3 linked regions of the Homo sapiens genome follow. The protein of the gene in region 3 interacts with the protein of the main gene of each other region in a biochemical or structural test. Each region holds a gene or a part of one and is shown on either strand. Other genes may lie near its edges. The genes, in order: UBE3A, S100A11 and ANXA1.

Region 1 (7,688 bases), on a different chromosome or scaffold from region 3:
GGAGGCAGAAGTTGCAGTGAGCCGAAATGGTGCCACTGCATTCCAACCTGGCAACAGAGTGAGACTCCATGTCAAAAAACAACAACAAAAAACACTCCTTGGAAAAAGTATAGGTACATTCTATATAGGATTAGTAGACTGTCAGAATCACTTGAAGATGTTCCGAAAGCATGACATATCAACAAAGGACATGTGAGTCTAGAATGGTGATCCCTAGGACAGGCCATATTACTGCATGCAAAGCAAGTCTTTGTTAACCTTATGACTTGCTCAGGAAGCAAAGTGTTTCATGTCCTAATAGGATAGTAGTATTTTCTGTTATGTTACATTTTAGGAAATTAGGAGTTTTGCATTGTCTTGTAAGAAGGTATTTTAAAAATTTTCAATGAAAATAATGAGAAATAGGTTTCCAGTGGTTTTATGCTTTTGGGGAAGAGGTTACTGATGTTTAGCAAAAGATGCTTATATATTCTTAATAGAACAAACCTGAGAATTAGTTCTTAAAGAGTTAAGGCCCATAAAAGAAACTGTAAGTGTTGGTACTCTTGTAGCTGGGCCACAGATCAGATCCTTAGTATGATAAAATTTGGTATTTTTGTGCTTCAATTTTTGGAGACCATTCAATGATCACTTACATTTTATATTGTCTTTCATTGTGAAACATATATTATAGCAGAGGTGGGAGTCATTAAAAATTCTACATGTTGTACACTACATGTATAAGGGTATATTTGGCGCAATGGAGGTAGGATTGTCTGTGTGCCTCTAAAATTAACCTCTCAAGTAGTTAATCTGATGATGACAAGTATGTCACTTTATTGATAAAAGGGAGAATTAAGACTATTCTCAGTATTATGTTGGTCAGTACACAAAATATATCATTTGTTTTTACCTGTGAAATGAAATATCTTTCATCCTATTAGCCAGAAGGGAGAAAGCCTTGGCCTGAAAATAACACTTATCTCAAAAAGTTGGGAAATGTGGTCCAACTCTGTGCCCAGGAAAAGAGGAAATAGATTTTGATGACTACATAGTCTCTGCACTGCTTGCCAGCTCATAAGTTTACTTCTTTGCACTGTTTGTTTTCATTGCTCAAAAACTATTTTCTGTCACTCTATGAGATTTAGTCTAACCTGATTCCTGGCTGTGGAAAGCAGTTTCTACTTAAGAGCCGATGAGAAATGGTATATTCTTCTCAATCACTCACAGAATGACTACCCTGGAACAAACTAGGAAGACCCAAAATGAACCAGTTTGATTTTAATACATACATAGATGCTGAAGGAGCCTTTTTTTAAGACCTTGCCTTCTTAGTCTTTGGAGAACAGAGTACTGAAACAAGAAAACTCACAGATTAGTAGTATTTCTGTGTGTTCTACAGTGAGGTTTTAAGAGCTGTATTATGATTAATCAGTACATGACATATTGGTTCATATTTATAATTAAAGCTATACATTAATAGATATCTTGATTATAAAGAAAGTTTAAACTCATGATCTTATTAAGAGTTATACATTGTTGAAAGAATGTAAAAGCATGGGTGAGGTCATTGGTATAGGTAGGTAGTTCATTGAAAAAAATAGGTAAGCATTAAATTTTGTTTGCTGAATCTAAGTATTAGATACTTTAAGAGTTGTATATCATAAATGATATTGAGCCTAGAATGTTTGGCTGTTTTACTTTTAGAACTTTTTGCAACAGAGTAAACATACATATTATGAAAATAAATGTTCTCTTTTTTCCTCTGATTTTCTAGATGTGACTTACTTAACAGAAGAGAAGGTATATGAAATTCTTGAATTATGTAGAGAAAGAGAGGATTATTCCCCTTTAATCCGTGTTATTGGAAGAGTTTTTTCTAGTGCTGAGGCATTGGTACAGAGCTTCCGGAAAGTTAAACAACACACCAAGGAAGAACTGAAATCTCTTCAAGCAAAAGATGAAGACAAAGATGAAGATGAAAAGGAAAAAGCTGCATGTTCTGCTGCTGCTATGGAAGAAGACTCAGAAGCATCTTCCTCAAGGATAGGTGATAGCTCACAGGGAGACAACAATTTGCAAAAATTAGGCCCTGATGATGTGTCTGTGGATATTGATGCCATTAGAAGGGTCTACACCAGATTGCTCTCTAATGAAAAAATTGAAACTGCCTTTCTCAATGCACTTGTATATTTGTCACCTAACGTGGAATGTGACTTGACGTATCACAATGTATACTCTCGAGATCCTAATTATCTGAATTTGTTCATTATCGTAATGGAGAATAGAAATCTCCACAGTCCTGAATATCTGGAAATGGCTTTGCCATTATTTTGCAAAGCGATGAGCAAGCTACCCCTTGCAGCCCAAGGAAAACTGATCAGACTGTGGTCTAAATACAATGCAGACCAGATTCGGAGAATGATGGAGACATTTCAGCAACTTATTACTTATAAAGTCATAAGCAATGAATTTAACAGTCGAAATCTAGTGAATGATGATGATGCCATTGTTGCTGCTTCGAAGTGCTTGAAAATGGTTTACTATGCAAATGTAGTGGGAGGGGAAGTGGACACAAATCACAATGAAGAAGATGATGAAGAGCCCATCCCTGAGTCCAGCGAGCTGACACTTCAGGAACTTTTGGGAGAAGAAAGAAGAAACAAGAAAGGTCCTCGAGTGGACCCCCTGGAAACTGAACTTGGTGTTAAAACCCTGGATTGTCGAAAACCACTTATCCCTTTTGAAGAGTTTATTAATGAACCACTGAATGAGGTTCTAGAAATGGATAAAGATTATACTTTTTTCAAAGTAGAAACAGAGAACAAATTCTCTTTTATGACATGTCCCTTTATATTGAATGCTGTCACAAAGAATTTGGGATTATATTATGACAATAGAATTCGCATGTACAGTGAACGAAGAATCACTGTTCTCTACAGCTTAGTTCAAGGACAGCAGTTGAATCCATATTTGAGACTCAAAGTTAGACGTGACCATATCATAGATGATGCACTTGTCCGGGTAAGTTGGGCTGCTAGATTAAAAACCTAATAATGGGGATATCATGATACAGTTCAGTGAATTCATTTTAAAAGTGACTGAAAAAAATGATACCATATAGCATAGGAACACATGGACATTTCTGATCTTATATAAGTATTATACTTTTGTTGTTCCTGTGCAAGTTTATAGATGTGTTCTACAAAGTATCGGTTGTATTATATAATGGTCATGCTATCTTTGAAAAAGAATGGGTTTTCTAAATCTTGAAAACTAAATCCAAAGTTTCTTTCATTCAGAAGAGAATAGAGTGTTGGACAAAGACCAGAACAAGAGAAATGTGGAGATACCCAATAATAAGTGTGGATGTGCAGTCTTGAACTGGGAGTAATGGTACAGTAAAACCATACCATAAAATTATAGGTAGTGTCCAAAAAATTCCATCGTGTAAAATTCAGAGTTGCATTATTGTGGACTTGATGAAGTGACCATGGCAGATCAGTGCCTGTTGCCAGTAAGAGTTGAGTCCTGCTGGGCCACTTAGAATATCCCTGTGTGGACGGCACTGCCTGGCTGTGGTAGTTTCTTCCCACTTAAAAATTCATAGAGACAACTCTGGGTCTTGGAACTTCTGGAAAACAGCAGCTATTCCAAAAATCTGGGGATTAGTGGTGCCTGTAACATCAAGTCCAGGGAGATTGAGCAGGGAAATACTGGAAACTCAGGTACTCATCCTAACTTCCTGGTTTTCCAGATGGGGTTGCCATTTGTTCCTTTTCTTTCCTCCACAAGATAATTTTAGTGTATCTGTTTAAGAATATAAGAGTGGCCAGAAGACAGAAAGCAGTCGTCAGTCACATTTCACCAAAATTTACATTTGTCTCAGGTGCATTATCGCAGAGCTTTATTGTATTTCTAGTATTAGCTATCCCTGTCATTGCTGCTACTTTTTTATCATCTTCAAGTAAAATTTAATGTCAACAAAAATTAAGGTAGTTAATAATACTATAGTATACTAGTAAAGTTGTCTGACACAGACAACTAGGAAATGTGATTTTTACTTTAAAATGTATTTTAGTTTTAGAATGTCTAAATTTTAGTTTTAGAATTGTCTAAATTCGAGAATTCATAAAGCTGTAGCCCGGTGGAAAAAGTTATTTGACATCTCAGAAATTAAAAATTGCAGAGATTTTGTGTGTTTTTTTTTTTTTTGTTACTGGTTTGTTTTTTTTTTTTAATGTCAGATATGTTTATAGTGTTGGAGAAAGATTCTGCATTATTTAAGCAACTCAGGTGGTTTTCTAGCAGAGACAAAAGGGGGCTTTAACTGCCTGAAGTCATTATTATTGCTTGCTTTCTGGTACCCTTTTTATTTCACTTACATAGTTTTGAGACACATGAATAATTAATACACTTAATGACTGATCATAAGGCAGCCAGCACCTTACTTTACATAGTTTAGCAGAATGATAGGGTATTTTATAAGAATGTGAGTGATGTTTTATGAAAGGTATGTTGAGGTCTGTCTATGACTATCCATTGTTGGAGCAGAACTGCAAATGCCAAAGCTACATACTTTATGTTTGGCTTCTTGAGGTGAGATCCCTTCAGCTGTCTTCATCAAAAGCTATGTCTAGCCTTTAAAAGGCAATGAAATTACACTGTAAGAATCATTCCAGGGTTCAAAAAATTGTCTACCTTCCTTATCTGTCTTTCGCTCAGAAGTCTACTCAGTCTTATTTTCCTCAGTCCCCCATTTTTTTCTCTAGTAAAGCAAGACTAAAAACAAAAGTTTAAGTACTTGGTATATACTTTATTCTATATTTTAAATTCTATTCTAGAATTTTAAGGAAACAACTGCTTTTAAAGCCTTAGGTGTTAGTGTAAAATTAACTGTGAGCTCTTTAATTATGGTAACTTGTTTTTAGCAAGTTCTGCTTAATTATATCAAAATTAGATAATATAGTGTGGCCTATCATAAATCAGGATTCACTAGATAGTATATGTACTTGAATATTGCCAGCCCACAAAAGCAGTTCACTTCAGAAATCATGTGTGTTAGGCAGTTTAATAAACTGTGAAAATAGAAAGAGATGATGCTTACAGAGAAGCTTCCTTAGGGGCTCTGAATGCTCACACTAAGCAGATTTTACTCTTAACTTTCTTTCTCCCTTGCTTTTTCTTCCTTTTCTTTTTTTTAAAAAAATAACAGAATGTGAAAAGACTAGAAAAACCAGCATCGAAATAGGTCTTATAAGTAAAATTGATAACCTGTGTAATTTTTTGAAGTAAGTATTCACAGCAGGTGATGATTATGATAAAGCCACATATTTTAGTAACACATAGTAGAAGTTCTATAATAGAAAGTGGTTTAAGATTATTCTCTCATATGAAAGCTCAAAAGTGATGAATTTTTCAAGATCTTATTTCCCAAGGATCTCTGCTTTTTAAGCCTCATTCTTATATATCACAGTGAACAAACTAGTGGCCACTTTTTTATGACTTGCTAATTTTGGAATTGTATAGCAGGGTTGGGTGGAAAAGAAGAAATGAGAAACTTTGTGGTAAGCTTAATATTGATAAATAAAATTATGGGATCCTAGGCTTTAAGAGCTAAAAGAAACCTTAGAGTTATCCACTCCTTAGTTTAGAAATCAAGCCCAGAAAATAGTGACTTCATATATGAGACTCTTGTATGTTTTCTGTTGAGGAGTGGTAACTTGAATTAATAATTGTGGATTTTTTTAAAAAAGAAAAATATATTCATTGCTTTTATATATTGTGAAATTCAAACCAGACTAGCAGCTTTTTTCCTGAGGTTTTTAGAGAAATTGTCTTTGATGACAAGAGAAGAATTCATGTTGATAGTATTTTCACTAATCTCTGATTGTAGGAAACACTATCATTTTATTACTGCTAAGACAGAAAAATACCAGCAATTCATTGTAAGATGCTATCATTTGTATGGTGTAATCTGATTTCAGAGATAATGTGAAAAAAGTGAATTTTAGAATCAATAGAATATAAGTTGTCTCTTCACAAATACCTTAGAACTGCTTAAGAACACCCCCACCCTACCCGTTTAACTTACTGCCATAGTTCCCCTAGGACTTATTTTCAGTATTTTTTCGTTATTGTTCCTTAGAAAACAGTACAGTGATAAACATGAGCTTAGACTTCACCTTTCATTTGAATGACATTCCTAATGTGATGAGGTTTTTACAAATATGTAAAACCATATTTACAAATTTACATTTTTAATATAAATATGTAATTTAATTTAATATGTAAATTAATTTAATTTAAATATGTAAATATTTACATATTTACAAATATGCAAATATTTACATATTTACAAATATGTAAATATTTACATATTTACAAATATGTAAATATTTACATATTTACAAATATGTAAATATACCCATTTGTGTGTTCTTTTACAAGTAGATAATTTCTCATTTTTCTTAGATGAAGCACTTCCAATGATAGTATGTATTAAGATTTTTTAAATTACTTCTTAAAGGAGAAGATAGAGGTTATAAGTTTATGGAAGAATATAGTATTGCCATCATGAGGTCCCTCAAACTGCCTTCACATCTGAATGGGAAAATTGTTTAAAAAAAATAAATAAATAAATAAATAAAATCCAGGGCCCTAACCTCTAGAGGTTTAGATTAGAAGCTGTATTGTAGAGCCTATGAATCTGAACTTCTGGTAATACTCCACAAATATTTTGATAAAGCCAGACTCCAATATTTGGGAAGATGGCCTTTGGTTCAGCTCAGGTGGGGGTGTGTGTGCATGTGTGTTTATGTGTGTATGTGTGCATATATAGAGAGAAAGAGAAAGGCCATTTTGATATACAAGTATGTTTATGTGTTTTGGAAACTCAGATTTTTAAGAGGATCATGGGGACAGCAAGCTTGGAATAGAGGATGATGATGATGTGAAACTTGGTTCCAATTAGTCAGGGAGTTCTAGCATTTCACATAAATATCTAAAAACCAAAAGGAATGGCTGAGATGTGGAATTGAATAGGGAAGTTCAAAAATAGGAATTAGCACAGATAAAGGTGATTGGCACAGATAAAAAGCCCCACTACCAGGAGGTTCTGCAAAATCCCCTCTAAAAGTCACTGGCCCTTTTTATCTGGTTTCTAATAGCCTAGTCTAACCCAGCTTCCAGCATTTTCAGCTCCCAGCTTCCAGCATTGGTGAACACTCTTACTAGTGAAACATGAACGTAATTCTTTTATTTATTCATTGACTCACAGAGCTTTAAAAATGAGATTATTCTGTGCTGCACTAGGTATGTTTAATTTTGTCTTACACATACACTATATTGTGGTTAACATGTAATTTCCATTGTTCTTTCTTGTGATTTATTCTAATTGAAATCAAAAATGAAACCAAGAAATATGCTTGGTTTATGCCCTCAAAGTAATTTCTCAGAAACTGAATGAGAGAATGAAGCCTATATATACATAGATCCTCAGCATTATATAATAATTTAAGACAATGAAACATCAAACTTAGTATTACATGTGAGGAAAATGAAATCTAAAAGAGATTCCAGCCTACATAAATTAATGGCAGAATTGGAAATAGAAGTCAGGATTCCAGGTCTCATGGACGAACGTGATTATGTGATTTGGTGTTACCCAAACATTTAAACTACATTTGAGATATAACAGACTTTTCTTC
Region 2 (7,715 bases), on a different chromosome or scaffold from region 3:
ACCACAGGGCTATCAAGCTAGAGTCCTAGGATTCACGCTTGATGCCTCCTTCCTCTAATGCTCCACAGCTGAACAGTGGTGAAGTTAGGTTGGTTTTGCCTTCTCAGTATTTGGTAATTCCCTCTCCCCATCTCCATGGCCATCTCACCCTGGTTATTGCAACAATATTCTAATATTCTTTGCCTCTAGTCTTTCTTCTTTCTAGAACATGTTTTCTACAGTTCCAAAAGTGAAGGGGATCACGTCACTGTCCTGCTTAAAAATCTTCAATGTTCCTTGATACATAACCCTAAGGTTACAATCCAAACTTCCAAGTATATCTCCTAATGAGCTGACCCTTGTCTCTCCCATCTCACATCCCACAGCTTCTGCCTCACATTTACCATCACCCCATACCCTAAGTCTGGTTCTACTGAACCACCTGCAAGTACTGAGAACACGAACAATGTTTCATCCCGAACCTTAATTCTGCACAAGCCACTATGTAAAACTTCCTCTGAAGACACTGCTGTAAGTCCTAAGCATTAAACATGAATTAACTCTTAATCCTCACAACAACTACTATTCTCTCCACTTTACAGATGAGGAAACTGAGACACAGAGCCAACAAATAACTTGCTAGATTTCATATAGCTAATACGTTGTGACACTGGGATTTGAACCCCAGTCTTGTGGCAGAGCCTGTGGCTGTAAATACTGTGCTATCTTGCCTGAGTTCACCTTTTTTCACTACCATGTTCATCCACCTGGTGAATTCTTATTTATATTTCAATACCCACCTCAAGCAGCACTTTTCCAGGATACTTTCCCTCCTCTCCCAGAGTTAACCTCTCATTTCTTTCCTGGCATTTGTCATTGTGTCTTGGTCACACCCCTGTTATTGCATTTGTCACTGTACTGTGTCCATTTCAGAATCAACCCAATGCTACACAGAGATCAGACTGCACATAAGAATTACCTTGAGCCATGGAAGTTCCTACATTTATTTCCTGATAAGCCCTTTTACCCATCTGTATATTATTTTTGTCTCTTGCTGTCAGTTTACCAGCTCTCACTCATCCTCAGCTCCTTGCTGGCTCCAGCCCTTCAGTTTGATTCATTGTTTGCCTGCTTTGACAAATCTACCTTGCCTGCTACCTTTCCTGAACTCTCCCTCCTTTGACTGATAACCTAGAAATGAACCCCTTTCAGCGTGACCCTGGGGAGCAGCTGTCAAGCAGGCAGCCCTAACTGGGTGGGGCTGATCCCCCAACCTGGCTCTGAACAAGTCATACTTATTTGGTTTAGCTTTTTCCTTTGGTTTCATTCAAGCTACTTCATGGGGCTGAAGAGTTATTGAAAGAATAAATGTCATAGAGAAAGTAAGAAAAACTAACAACTAGGTTTAGGAAGAACAAAAACGCTAATGAAGTCAGACTGCAGGCTCTTCACTCCCAGTGGTTCACCATTTTCACAATTCAGCGAACACCCAAGTAGCCTTTTCTTTAATTTACAGTTAGCAATTGGCTTACATTCCCCTCTGTCTATTTCTTCCAAATTTCATAGCTTCCACTTACTCATGATGTCTTCTCCATAAGTTTTATTTGCCATGACTTCATGGTTCTGTCTATGCAAATGTTCAGCTTCAGCTCTTCTAAATGCCTAATTTTCTATGTGCTTCTAATTTCAGTTTCCCAAAAACAAGAAGCTTTTTGGCCCTAGTTCATCTTTCCATGTTATGTCATGAAACATCCACTACCAGCCATCCTATAGATTGGCAGTGCTGGTGTCCAGACTAACTTCAACCCAGTCCACTCTAACAGGGTCACAGTGTGTCAAATCATGCAAAACTTGGCCACCTGGGCTGCCCCTTGAGCACAGGTTCTAAGTGAGGCATTTTCTCTTAAAAAGAACTATAGTGGCCGGGCGCAGTGGCTCTCACCTGTAATCCCAGCACTTTGGGAGGCTGAGGAGGGCAGATCACGAGGTCAGGAGTTCCAGACCAGCATAACCAACATGGTGAAACCCCGTCTCTACTAAAAATACACAAAAAATTAGCAGGGTGTGGTGGCGCACACCTGTAATTCCAGCTACTCAGGAGGCTGAGGCAGGAGAATCGCTTTAACCCGGGAGGCGGAGGTTGCAGTGAGCTGAGATCACCCCGTTGCACTCCAGCCGCCTAGGCAACAAGAGTGAAACAACGTCTCAAAAAAGAAAAAAAAGAAAAGAACTGTGGTGTGTAAGGCCTCATGATTGAGTTATGGAGTAATTTAGACAAATGATTCCTTAATATGTTGGGATCATAAATTTTTCTGAGAATCAGATGAAAGATGTGGACTCTTCGCCAGAAAAATTTCTCTTATGCAAAAAATTTACATGTAACTTTAAGGTATTAAGGAACCCCAGCAGCCGTTCATGTAACACCCCCCACCACCAAAGGTTTGAAGTCTATTACCTGGCACTTGATAAGAACTGTGAGTCAAAAAGGCATTTAGACTCAGTGGCTCCAATGCTTTCAAGCAGGGAAAATGGTAGAGTGATAGTACCCTTAGCAGAGAAGACAGAAACAGGTTTGGGGAAAACTAGTTATTCCTGAATTATTGAGTCTGAAGTGCAGGTGGGACTCTCAAGTGGATTCATAAACAAGTAACTGAAAATGTGGGTCTGGAGTAGCTGAGAACTGAGATGGAGATTTGTCTCACGTGCTCAGGGCACCTGTGAGAGCAGGTGCAGGGAAGCAGTTCACACAATGCCTATAGCCCATTATCTTTCATTTGCGTCTACTCTGCAGTTTTTGGAGACCTTTCTAAGCCCTCACTTTACTTGACAGTCCTAACAATCTTATGAAACAGGAAAGGCCTATCTCAAGACCTATTACAAATAAGGAAGTGGAAGCTCAAAGGAGTGACAAGTCTGGTCAAAAGTATTGCAATGAAGTAACAGACACAAGACTGGAACCCAAGTCTTCTGATTCTTAATACAACTCCTAATTTCATTGCAAACTGCACACAGATAAATGCCTTACTAGCACGGATCAATTTTTAAGTGCAGTAGTTTGGTTTTCGGATTTTGTCTTTGTGGCTGTCCTCAGTTTACAGAAAAGTTTGAGAGAGAGGGGTGGCAATTGTCCCTTGACAATAATCCCCAGTAATCCCGTGGCAATTGATTTGGCAATACTCACCACTGTTTACTGTTAAATATCTTCCCTGTGGAGCAATAGAGAGCCCCAACTCCTAGGAACTTGTCTACAATTCTGACCCGCACTCTGTCCTAACTAACACTCTTGGTTTTGTTTTTTGTTTGTTTGTTTTTGAGATGGAGTCTTGCTCTGTCGCCCAGGCTAGAGTGCAGTGGCGCGATCTCGGCTCACTGCAAGCTCTGCCTCCGGGGTTCACGCCATTCTCCTGCCTCAGCCTCCCGAGTAGCTGGAACTACAGGCGCCCGCCACCACGTCCGGCTAATTTTTTGTATTTTTAGTAGAGACGGGGTTTTGCCGCGTTAGCCAGGATGGTCCCGATCTCCTGACCTCGTGATCCACCCGCCTCGGCCTCCCAAAGTGCTGGGATTACAGGAGTGAGCCGCTGCGCCCGGCCTGTTTTTGTTTGTTTTTTGAGACATTGTTCCGCTCTTGTTGCCCAGGCGGCTGGAGTGCAACGGCGCGATCTCAGCTCGCTGCAAACTCCACCTCCCGGGTTCAATCGATATTTCTGCCTCAGCCTCCCAAGTAGTTGGTATTACAGGCGTGTGCCACCACGCCAGGCTAATTTTGTATTTTTAGTAGAGACAGGGGTTTCACCATGTTAGTCAGGCTGATCTCAAACTCCTGACCTCATGTGATCTACCCGCCTCGGCCTCCCAAAGTGCTGGGATTACAGGCCTGAGCCACCGCGCCCGGCCCACTGCTGTTTCCAAAAGAGACCTTTTTTGCCTATCTAACCTAAATGCCCAGAATGAGCTCATACATGGGAAAGACCCACGGACATGGACAGACTTCCCGAAGACTACTGTGCAAAACTTATAATTCTAAAAAGTCAAAAATCTTCAGGAATCACAGGACGGGGTGGAGGGGGCCGGGGGGAAAGAGGAGGGAAAAGAGGGAAAGGAGGGAGAGTGAGACTGCTTAAATCGCTGGAGAGGACGGTGGGTTTATTTGAGTCTTAAAGCTCAGTTCTGTGGTTAGCGCCGGCCGCGGTCCCAGGCCCAGCCCGGGAGGCGGGGAGGGGCGGGGCAGGCGCGGAAGCTGTCTGAGTAAGGCTTGGGCAAGGCTGGGCCGGGAAGGGCGTGGGTTGAGGAGAGGCTCCAGACCCGCACGCCGCGCGCACAGAGCTCTCAGCGCCGCTCCCAGCCACAGCCTCCCGCGCCTCGCTCAGCTCCAACATGGTAAGCCTCACTTTTCTTCTTCTTCTTCTTACATGAAAAGAAAAAGAAAAGAAAAAAAACCCACATACTTCCCAGCAGACTTTATCTTTGACTTATGTGTGGACGTGGCAGGAAACAGCAGGAAAAATCAGCCTCGTGGGAGGGAACTGGGGAAGAAGGGATGGAAGGATGAAGCCCTAAAATCATCCTTGGGGTGGCCGCCTAGGGTAGCAGCGGAGGTTCTTTAGCCTTCCCAGTCACGACAAGGCCCAGGGCTGGGGAAGAGGAAGTGCTGGCCGCTCACCGCGCGGGGGGGGGACCCGTCGTGGGTCACTGCCTCCAGCCCCTCGCCCGCGGTCTCCCGGGAGCCCAGAGACGCCTAGGAGCAAGTTTAAGGCAGGGGGCTGGAAAGCTGCGAGGGGTCACTAGTTATTTCTGTACACCAGAAAAGGGACATTTTAGAACTTGGTCGTCTAGCCCCAGGGAAAATCAAAGTTTCAGTAAGCACCCGGCAGACGGCCAAGACCCAACGGGACTGAAACTTTAGCCCGTCGCCGCCCGCAGCGCCGCGGCCAAGAATGTGGGAGGAACCCGGTCCCAGCTGAGCCCTCTCCTCCTTCCTCTTCCTTTTACCCCACCATCTATTTAGGCACTCACTCCGTAACTTATTTTTCTCTTCTTATCTCCTTTCATCTCCCAGTTGAACTCATATTTTCCATAATTCCACCTCCAAAATCTCTTTCTTTACCTCTCCTTAGTGGAGAGTCAGCAAACTGGCCCGCGGGCCAAGTCGGGTTTTCTGTTCTGCCCACAAGCTAAGAATAAAGTTTACATTTGTAAATGATTGAAAGAAATCAAAAGAAGAAAAATACTTTCTGACATGTGAAAATTATGTGGAAATCAAACTTCAGCGTCCATAAATGAAGTATTGGAACAGAGCCACGCCCATTCCCTTCCATACTGTCTGGGGTTGCAGTCCTGCTACAGCAGGGACAGAAAGCTCCGGAGGGTGTTGGTTAAGAATGAGAAGACAATAGTTGAGGTTTTTAAAATTGCTACGTCTTTTTCATCGTATTTTTTTCTTTCCTCAAATGTTGAGCGCTTAGCATGCATTTTTAAAAATTATTTCACAGTATCCGTTTATCATAATGTTTGCTCCTTGCTATCGCCATCCCCACCAAGTAAGACTCCAAGAGTGCCATGAGGTGTGGAGAGCGCCGGTTCTCCTCTCCTTCAGCCACTGCGCCACCCTGGGCAGAGCTTTCCGGTTTCTGGGCGTCCTCAGGACCCATCTCCAAAGTGCCCTGGAGCTCTACAAATTATGCCGTTCCATTTTAGTAATTTGATAATTGTGTCTCTTTCTTTCACTTTGGAGAATTACCTCTGGGAGGAAATGCAAAGAGGTTTTAATTTTCTCCTTGTGGCTGATAGCAACAGCAACAGTTTTCAAAAGAAAATAATCTCTAAATTACACCAAGACTGATGTTAAGGAGAGAAAAATGTGAAGCAGAAAGGCACTGTGAAACTGGAAAAGCAAAACTGTCTGCATTCTGGAAGGAAAAGGGGCAGGGGGAGAATCTGTAGTTCCAGAGAAAGGTGACAAAGCCCATGCTCCTCAGCCTGGTGTGGCCTCCCAGCCAGTCTCCTTCCTGTCATCTGATACCTTAGTAAGACAGGGAGATTTTAGGCCTGATATGAAGGGCATGTTGTAACAGAACAAACACATCTGTTTCTAGGCTGTGGTATTTTGTTTCTCCCCTAAAGGCCCCTGAACCTACCAACACTTTTCTTAATGAAAAGTTCAATTTAGAGCAAAACAAAAACAATCATCCTCCAACAATGTGATTCTTGGGAAAAAGTCCACCTCTCTTAGGGTTCAGGGGTTCTAACGCTGTAAGATGCAATGGGAGGCAAGACTCAGCTAGGATCTCTGCAGCATAAAGGCTGTACAGGAAGGAGGAATCAATCTGCAGCTGTGTAGCTAAGGGCTCAGATCAGTTCTTAGCACGTGTTAATTACGGAGTGAGAAAGCCTCTAGCTCTGGCCTCCAGGAAGTCCATCCTAAGAACAAACGAAAGGCTAAATGCTAAGTTGCAAATGTCACCATCCAAACATAAATCATTGTTAACGCTAGTAGGTAAAGTCTCAGAGGAAGGGTGTGGCCAGGCCGGTTTCCCAGAAAGTCTGTAATTGCGGCTTCTACCCACCAGAGGGAGGCCAACAGCTCCTCACTTTTGGGACCCTAAGTCCCCTTGGGGAACCGGATGACTGGGCCCTATAGAATTTCCTTGAAAAATTCTGCTGTGAGGAAAGAGCCCAGTACAGGATTTAAATCTCTTACATTGTAGATGCTGTGTAAGCAGCAACCTGAGAGCTTCCTGGTTTGGAGTGACCTCCAGAGAAGCTCCACCTTCTCTGTCACTATTTCCCACCAGGAAGTGGAAGCCTGCAAGGCTAAGGACTGCAGAAAGGGACTGGGAGGCCCAGATTCCAGGGCTGGCTCTGCCATATCCATTCCCTTCTCCTGTCCGTTTCCTCACATCTAAGATTAATGGTTCCTAACTCTTAAATATGAAAGCCATTTTCAAACATCTAAAAAGTTCTATCTCCCACTGCATACACAATGATAGCTATGCTTTTAGTTTTCTCTAAGGAAATGTGTGAGTCCCAGGAATTCGGTATTGCTTTAAAAAGAACTGACATTTCATTAATCACAAAAGCCTCCATACACTCTTGGAAAATAAGAAATTATTAACCTATAGACAATGTTTGGTGTGCATATGGATTTGTGGATATAGAGTTACACATGTATTTATCCACACATTTTAAAAATATGAGTAAACCTTGTCACCGTCACTCTCATCTAGGCAGTCTACTGCTTTTAAACGTGCCAGCAATGCTCCACATTTACCTTCCATATATTTCACCTGGAATAAACATGTGGCGAGGGGTAGGACGGAAGGTCACAGAGTGTGACTTTTTGTGGTTGTCTTGAACCCCTCAGCCCCTTGAAAAAATGACTCAGTCTTTTAGGAAACTGCTTTGACCTGAAATAAGAGTCCCTGGAGTTTTCTCCAGTATCCAGCCTTGACATCTTCCCTTGTCTGAGCCCTGCAATTTTTTTTCTCCAAAGGCAAAAATCTCCAGCCCTACAGAGACTGAGCGGTGCATCGAGTCCCTGATTGCTGTCTTCCAGAAGTATGCTGGAAAGGATGGTTATAACTACACTCTCTCCAAGACAGAGTTCCTAAGCTTCATGAATACAGAACTAGCTGCCTTCACAAAGGTACTGGTCCCTGTCTCCCCCACTTCCCCAAACTACCCACAACATGAAACAAGACCCTGGCAGAATGGCCAGGAATGAAGGAGCAGCAACT
Region 3 (7,870 bases):
ATATCTTAGAAAGTATATAATCAAATGAAGTTCCTTTTTTTCATAATAGACTCTAGTTTTTAGAGAAATTTTAGGTTTACAGAAAAATTGAGCAGAAAGTACAGAGAATTCTCATATACTCAATTTCCCGCTGCTCTTAGTTTCCCCTGTTACTAATATTTTGGATTGATGTGGTCCATTTGTTATATTGGTGAACCAATATTGATACATTATTATTAGCTAATTGCCATAGTTTACATTAGGGCCTACTCTTCATGTTATACATTTCTATGTGTTTTGCCAAATCCATAATGTATGCATACACCATTACAGTATCATACAGAATAGTTTCACTTCCCTAAAAATCTCTTTTTTTTTTTTTTTTTTTTGAGACATAGTCTCGCTCTGTTGCCTAGGCTGGAATACAATGGGGCAATCTTGGCTCACTTTAACCTCTGCTTCCCAGGTTCAAGTGATTCTCCTGCCTCAGCCTTCTGAGTAGCTGGGACCACAGGCGTGCACCACCACGCCCAGCTAATTTTTTTTTGTATTTTAGTAGATGGGGTTTCATCATGTTGGTCAGGCTGGTCTTGAACTCCTGACCTGATGATCCGCCGCCTCGGCCTCCCAAAGTGCTGGGATTACAGGTGTGAGCCACCATGCCCAGCCCACTTCCCTAAAAGTCTCTTATTTATTACTCCTCCCTGCCACCAACTCCTGGCAACCATTGATCTTTTTACTTTCTCTATAGTTTGCCTTCTCCAGAATGCATCTCATTGGAATGAAACAGACATAGCCTTTTCATACTGTCTTCCTTTACTTAGCGATACTCATTTATGATTCCTTCATTTCTTTTCCTGGTTTAAAAGCATTTCTTTTTATCATTGAGTAATAGTCCATTACATAAACGTACTATAGTCCATGTATTCACTTACCTCTTGAAAAATATCTCAGCTGCTTCCAATTTCTGGTAATTATGAATAAACTGCTATAAGCATACATGTGCAGGTTTTTGTGTAAACATGTTTCCTAACTCATTTGGGTAAATATCTAGGAGCACAATTGCTGGATTGCATTGTAAGACTCTGTTTATCTTTGTAAGAAACTGCCAGACTATTTTAAAACAGCTGGAACCTAGAAAGCAGAGTTTGACCTTTTGACCTTAACACATATCTTCATTTTCCTTCTGCAAAACTTCTTGAAAATTATTGAAGTAAAATTTGTTATTATAGCGAATGTGACAAGGTCTTATTCTCTTACTTTCGAATAATATAGAGAGGGATATGGATACTATACTCAGGGATTAAACAAAATAACTTGTGCAATACAAAATTACTAATCCTAGCATGATCCTGATGTTGGAAGTATACTAGTTGAATCACCAAGTCATTCGCTGACTTTTCCTAAGTCACACAGTAATAGATACTAAGCCACCACCAAATTTGAGTTTTTATCTTCTCTAAGATTTTCCACCCACAAAAGGAAATATAGAGAGGCAGGGAGGTAAGATCTTTTTCCCTAAGTGAAGTCCAACAAAGGTACCTCCCTTTGGCTCTAGCTACCCACATGACTACTTCATTAACCTGAAAGAGTAAAATTTGAAAAAAAATTCTGTCTTTAATTCATGTGAATAACTGAGGAATAATAATAATAATAATCTCAATAACTCAGTGTGTGTGTGATAATTATTTGCCATGTTTAGAGGCAAAGGGAAAACATTTAGAATGTTAGCCCTCAAAATGCTTTGACCTGGGGACACATGAGAAACACACACTAAAATAATGATTTTTGTTGGCTGTGGATAGGGGGTATGAGGAAGCTGTGGGGAGATTTTGGAATATCTGTGAAATGCTGTTCTTGATCATTCAGAATATACTCTTTCTTCCATATAACAAGTAATGCTTAGATAGAGTTAAATGTAAAGGATGAGGGGACAGCTTACTAAGATCAGATATTTTGCAAGAGTCTTATGCACAATGAGATGTATGTGAGAGACTCCATATTTCCTCTCCTTGTTTTGTTTTGTTTCCTCTTCACTATCAGATTCTAAACCAAATGAGTGAAAATAAACATGCTGTGAAAAACGTAACATATAGAGATTGATTTTAACTGTCTTTTTTCTTTCCTTCTCTTTCTTTATTTTCTCTGTTTGTAAAGTAAGTGGAGCCGATGAATCATCATCTTCTAGAAACAGCAAGAGTGGTGAGTCATTTCTCTGGAGTATGTGGCATTTCACCCACAGAAAGCATTTAACCCATGATTATCCCCTCACTGTTAATGATAACATATTTTACTTGTTCTTTTATTTCCATAAATCTACTCGACATTATTATTATGCGGAGAAAAAGATTCTGACAGATTATTCACAGCAATATACCTACATGATTAGTGGCTTTCTTTTTGTGTTATGTTTGGGAGTTTCACTTGCCTTTAGTGTTACAGCTGGAAGTTAATTTTGGAAAAACATTCTTTTCACTTTTTTTTTCTTAATTCTGCTACAATTATCATATTTATTGTTGCTATTTTAGGTTTGCCTATGTATTACAAATCCAAACATATAAAATAATTCCATTCAGTTTATGGCACTGGTAATAGCAGCAACAAAGCAAAATGAGACTATACATGTTTTCTAGGTTGTTATATTTTATAAAAAGTAAGTGGAATTTTTTCTTCATTTCACAAGAGCATCACTGTGCAGGAATGTTCCAATAGTTCCATTACCAGAGTTAGGAATACAAACGCAAATTAAAGAAAAAAAGAAAACCAGATTTTGTATAATCATCTTATTCCTTCTCACCTGATGACATAAATATGGTATTAGAAAGTTAGTCTACATCTGTCAAGATCAATTTGCAATAATATCAATTAACTTAACTTGTTAGCAGGTAACTAATTAATTTTCAACTTACACATATGATAGTAAAAACATATATTGACATTTTCTTAAATATTTAGATTAGATGATCATCCTACTTCAGGATATGTTGACTTCATTGATATTGGCATCGAGCACTTAGAATGTATTATAAAATACTGCCAATCTTTAGAAAGTATTTTCATTAACTTCCTAAACTTCATGTTTTTTATGTGAAATATCTATGAGGAAAAGAGGAAAAAGAACAAACCACTAAATGCAGCATAAATTGAGCCATAATGCTGTGAGATTTTACACCTGTGCACTTTAATGGAAACATCATATAATACTTTGTAGGGTTTAAAGAAGAATGAAAATGAACCACTATGGAAGTTACCAGAACCAATTTTCCTCCATTGGGTGGGAAATTTCTTATGGAATGTGTTCTGTAATAGTTGCTGCTCCATTAATCCTTTCATTTTATAGGTCTAGTTCCTTGTTTTGGTGTTCAACTAGTCTACAATGTCAAAGATGTGTATCAAAATGTATATATAACTGATCTATATTACAGTTTATATATATAGTTCTATGTAACTGACTCTATTTAAAAGAATTAATGTAGATAGGCCTTCTGATGTCAATGCTTTTATTGAATGTCATAATGATCAAATTTTTGGCATTACCTTTGTTCAAAATTTTGAGCCAATCTGGAACTTTATTACTTCTATATTTCTTATTTATAACAACAAGCTATATCTAGGAACAAAAGTCGTTTATTTTTTAAGGCAAGAAAAATATAAATAGAAAATTATTCGGCACTGTGTAATGTTAAAATTTACAAATATATGTTATTTCTCCATTGTCACAAGAATTCTAGTGGGTAGACAACTTAGATAATGCTCCTATATACAAAAGTAAAAACAGCTAGGCATGGTGGCTCACGCCTGTGATTCCAACTCTTAGGGAGACAGAGGCAGGAGGATAGCCTGAGCCCAGGAGTTTGAGACCTGCCTGGGCAATATAACGAGACCCCATTCTCCACAAAAAGCGGGGGAAAAAGACAACAAAACAAAAGTAAAAACAGGTTCAGAAAAATTAAGTATGTCCCTAAAGTCACAGAATAATAAGTGATGGAGGTGGAATTCAAATGTAATATTTTGTTTGTTGGTTTGTTTAGTTTTGAAGGTAACATACTTTTTAGTCTACAACCTATTTAACTACAAAAGTGTGCCAATCACTGGTATTAGGATTGGGGCAGATGTATACTCTGAAAATAAAAGTGCAAAATAAATATCCCATCTGGAAATAAAAGTGCAAAATAAAGAGGGAGGAAAAATCAGCCCTTCCATTTCTTTTCCTTTGTAATGCCAGTTGAATTGGTTTAGTGAGTAGTTTTGCAAGACTTGTTTCACTTTGTTTTTGGACATAGCTGAGCCATGTACTTCAAACAGAAGGCAGCCAATTACTAACTTCTGGTTGCTAGGTGTGGCTTCCTTTAAAATCCTATAAAATCAGAAGCCCAAGTCTCCACTGCCAGTGTGAAATCTTCAGAGAAGAATTTCTCTTTAGTTCTTTGCAAGAAGGTAGAGATAAAGGTAAGTCTTGGTTTTCCTTTTAGTTAGTTTTGGTTGTTTTGAAAACTTTTCTCATCACTATGTTAAATGTTACTGCTTCTACAGGATTTATGGTTAGTTGCATTTAACATGATAAGTCATTCATAAATCTTTCTGTAGAATTACATTGGATATTTATATTTTAGGAATCACAAATTACAATATTTTTGTTCTACTTAGTTAACAAATACAAGTAAAAATAAGATAAGTTTGCTTAATACTGGCTCATTGTACTCTTGGTAAGTTACCATGAGAAAGAAGGGAAGAATGTGCTTTCCCTCTGGTAGCCTTAAAAGAATGTGTTTTTCCTTTCCTTCCCCTTGAAATATTTCTTCCCAAGAGCTGTGTGTTTTACAGAGAAATCGTGATGGGGGCTGCTTTTTGGGGGCAAGAACAAAAGTGATAGGAGTGGGCTGCAGGGAACTGTTTCAAAATAGTAGGACTTTCATAATTTATTTTCTTCTTTTGTAAGGAAAACAAGATAGATTCAGACCTCAAAGTGCTAATCATGCTCTTTGTAATAAACATTTAAAAATATATGTTATATTTGCTTATGCTATTTAAAATAAGAAGGTCCGCTTATTACTTTTTTCATTTAAAGAGGGTGTGGCCACATTCCTTTTCTTGTAGGCTCTGTGTCATATACAGTCTTTTCAAGTGCTGGCTGGAAAACCTAAAAAGAAGGGAAATACTTTCTGGGTAGTGTCAGATACATTATCCTAGGGGAATGTCAGTGAGGCCCTCCAACAGCTATTCCACTTGATTGTTGCATGAGCTAATGGCCATAAAACTCCTTAGAAAAGCACAAAGCAAAACTAAAGAAGAGTATTTACTAGTGTTGGATATATTTGTAAAAGTGAGATTACAAATCATGTATCTGGCTATTTTTTTCTTAAACATGTTCCTTCAAGAATTTTTCTGTTCGTTCATTTTAAATATTTATTAAATGTTCTGATTTCTTATGTTCACTGCTAGCTAATTAACAAGGATGGAATTTTTCTTGCCTTGGTTATATCTAAAAGATTGTAAAAACTTTGAGAAAGCAATGTTGCCCTCTTTCCACAGGAGTATTTTGGTAGCTGTAAGAGAATGCACATTGCAAATGACTCAAATGTGGTAAAATGTTGGTTTCATAATTCTGAAATGGCCTCTTCCCCAAAAGTGACAGTAACACCCTAGCTCCAGGCTCAACCACATCCAGCACATAGCCAACATTTAACAGATGTTGACAAAATAGTTAATAATAATATTATTAAGGAACCAGCCAGAGTTTCATGCTTATTAAATACTTTTTCAACCAGAAGGTCTGCAAAGGTTGATTTCTGAATATGACGTTAGCTCTCTCTAGACCTATTAATTTACGACATTTCAAATCAGAGGTAAACCAGCAGACCTATTATTTTTCAATGATAAACTATAAACAGTTTTTTGAAGTCAACTATTTCCTTTTCCTTTAAAATTGGACAGAATTTCATCAGGAAGCTCAGAACAATCCAATTTATATAATGCCTTCCTTCATTATGCTAATTTTCTTCATCTTCATCTACTTGAAGTAATATTTAAGATTGGCACTTCAGAGCTGTAAATGGATCTTAGATGATAATTACTTCAACATTCTTATTTTATAAACGAAGACCCTCTGGAGAAGCTAAATGTTTTTCTTGAGGTCAGATCGCCAGATAATCAAGAACCAGTATACTTCAATTTGTATTTTATATCCTATAGTTGTGGGTAGAAAATGTTCATTAAATTAGTGTAGATATGTTTTTTAAAATATTAGCAATGATACATGATATTCATTCAATAATACTTATTAACATCCTAAATTCCAGGCATTTTGCTAGGGATTGGAAGTACATACATAATGAATATTATTATTTGTATGTTAGCACGGGCCTCATGGCCTGCTCCTGGGGAATATAAACAAGCCAATGGAAAGTGATAATACAGAAAGGTGGGGCTGGTGTAGGGGTGAAGTCAGGATGCTTTGGGAGAGCATGGAAGGTCACCGAATCCAGTGCTGAGGAACTAATGAAGGGTTTCTGAAGAACGTGATGAGATCAATGCTGATGAGTCACTTAGAAGTAGCAATTAGTTAGGCAAAGGGAAGTGAATGTGGAGGAGGAACAAGCATTCCAGGCAAGAAGAACACCCTATCGAAAAGCCTGGAAGCAAAACATTAGTGAGGCTACCTTTCATAAATTGCTTTCTGTAAGTCATGCCATTGTGTAGTCTTAATTGCTTTCTCTCACCAGGGAAGGTGTGGGAAGGACTTGTGAAATACATATTCGAGGAAAAACTATGCACAAGGCCGTGCATTTAAAAATAAACTCCCTAAGGCTGGGGTGAAACCTGCTACGGTCTGCGCAAGTTGACTGTTAATGAATTTGATTCTCAGGTGTGAGTGATTAAAAGAACACTGATCATGTCATTTTCTTTTTGGTCACTAATTCCCTCCCTCCCTTCTCTTTCTTTTCTTTTTTCTTTTCTTTTCTTTTTCTTTCTTTCTTCCCGACAGAGTCTTGTTATGTCGCCCAGGATGGAGTGTAGTGGTACAATCTCGGCTCACTGCAGCCTCCGCCTCTTCCTGGGTTCAAGTGATTCTCCTGCCTCAGCCTTCTGAGTAGATGGGACTACAGGTGCACACCACCATGCCTGGCTGATTTTTGTACTTTTGGTAGAGACGGGGTTTCGCCATGCTGGCCAGGCTGGTCTTGAACTCCTGGCCTCAAGTAATCTGCCCACCTTGGCCTCCTAAATTGCTGGGATTGCAGGTGTGAGCCACCATGCACAGCCAAAATATATAACACTTTGGAATCAAAAGGGATGGATTTATGTCTCCATTCTTGCCACTACTAGCAGGAAGACTGCTTGAAAATAGCACTCAGTTTTCCCAGATAGAAACTGAGGATAATGATTAAAGGCTATTATTCCAAGCAAGGGTTAGTCATTGCTGTTACTATCATTGCAAAACTCTGATAGTTCTAGATTGTAACCAGGAAGATACAATCAACCACAAAACTCAGCTTCCTCTGTCACAAATTCTAGATAGAGGTAGCCTTTCATGAGGCTGAGAGATGGAAAAATGAAGCGGGGGGACTCTCTTAGGACACATAAATATGCAAAAAAATTGCTACGCTTTAGAAAGCTATACATTCAAATCATAGATAAGCTGACATTAGTAGGCAGTGCATGTTCACAAAAAGACCATTAATTAGAAGAAATGTGAAATATTGTTAATTTCCTTATAGATTTGCCTATGTATAAATGGCCAATTTCACCGTCAATGAGCTCATGCTAAGTACTGAAATAAACTTAGTTTTAGAGCTTATCTTTGGTTAGTTGAAATCTGTATTGAGTTAGTTGAAATCTATAAGTTGATAGAACAGGCTCTTTAAAATCTATTGCAAGCTTTATACACTAC

What was found.
Region 1: the proteins of ANXA1 (region 3) and UBE3A form a complex in vitro, tested with the Homo sapiens proteins (one study listed by BioGRID).
Region 2: the proteins of ANXA1 (region 3) and S100A11 form a complex in vitro, tested with the Homo sapiens proteins (2 studies listed by BioGRID).

What each region holds. Positions count from the first base shown.
Region 1 is NC_000015.10:25,365,881-25,373,568, reverse strand, and holds part of UBE3A (ubiquitin-protein ligase E3A), read left to right. Parts: intron 1-1,756; coding exon 1,757-3,003; intron 3,004-7,688. UniProt on the Homo sapiens protein: E3 ubiquitin-protein ligase which accepts ubiquitin from an E2 ubiquitin-conjugating enzyme in the form of a thioester and transfers it to its substrates.
Region 2 is NC_000001.11:152,033,557-152,041,271, reverse strand, and holds the start of S100A11 (protein S100-A11), read left to right. Parts: upstream 1-4,267; 5' UTR 4,268-4,356; coding exon 4,357-4,359; intron 4,360-7,471; coding exon 7,472-7,624; intron 7,625-7,715. UniProt on the Homo sapiens protein: Facilitates the differentiation and the cornification of keratinocytes.
Region 3 is NC_000009.12:73,147,497-73,155,366, forward strand, and holds the start of ANXA1 (annexin A1), read left to right. Parts: upstream 1-4,368; 5' UTR 4,369-4,428; exon of another isoform or gene 4,429-6,827; coding exon of another isoform or gene 6,828-6,846; intron 6,847-7,870. UniProt on the Homo sapiens protein: Plays important roles in the innate immune response as effector of glucocorticoid-mediated responses and regulator of the inflammatory process. Has anti-inflammatory activity.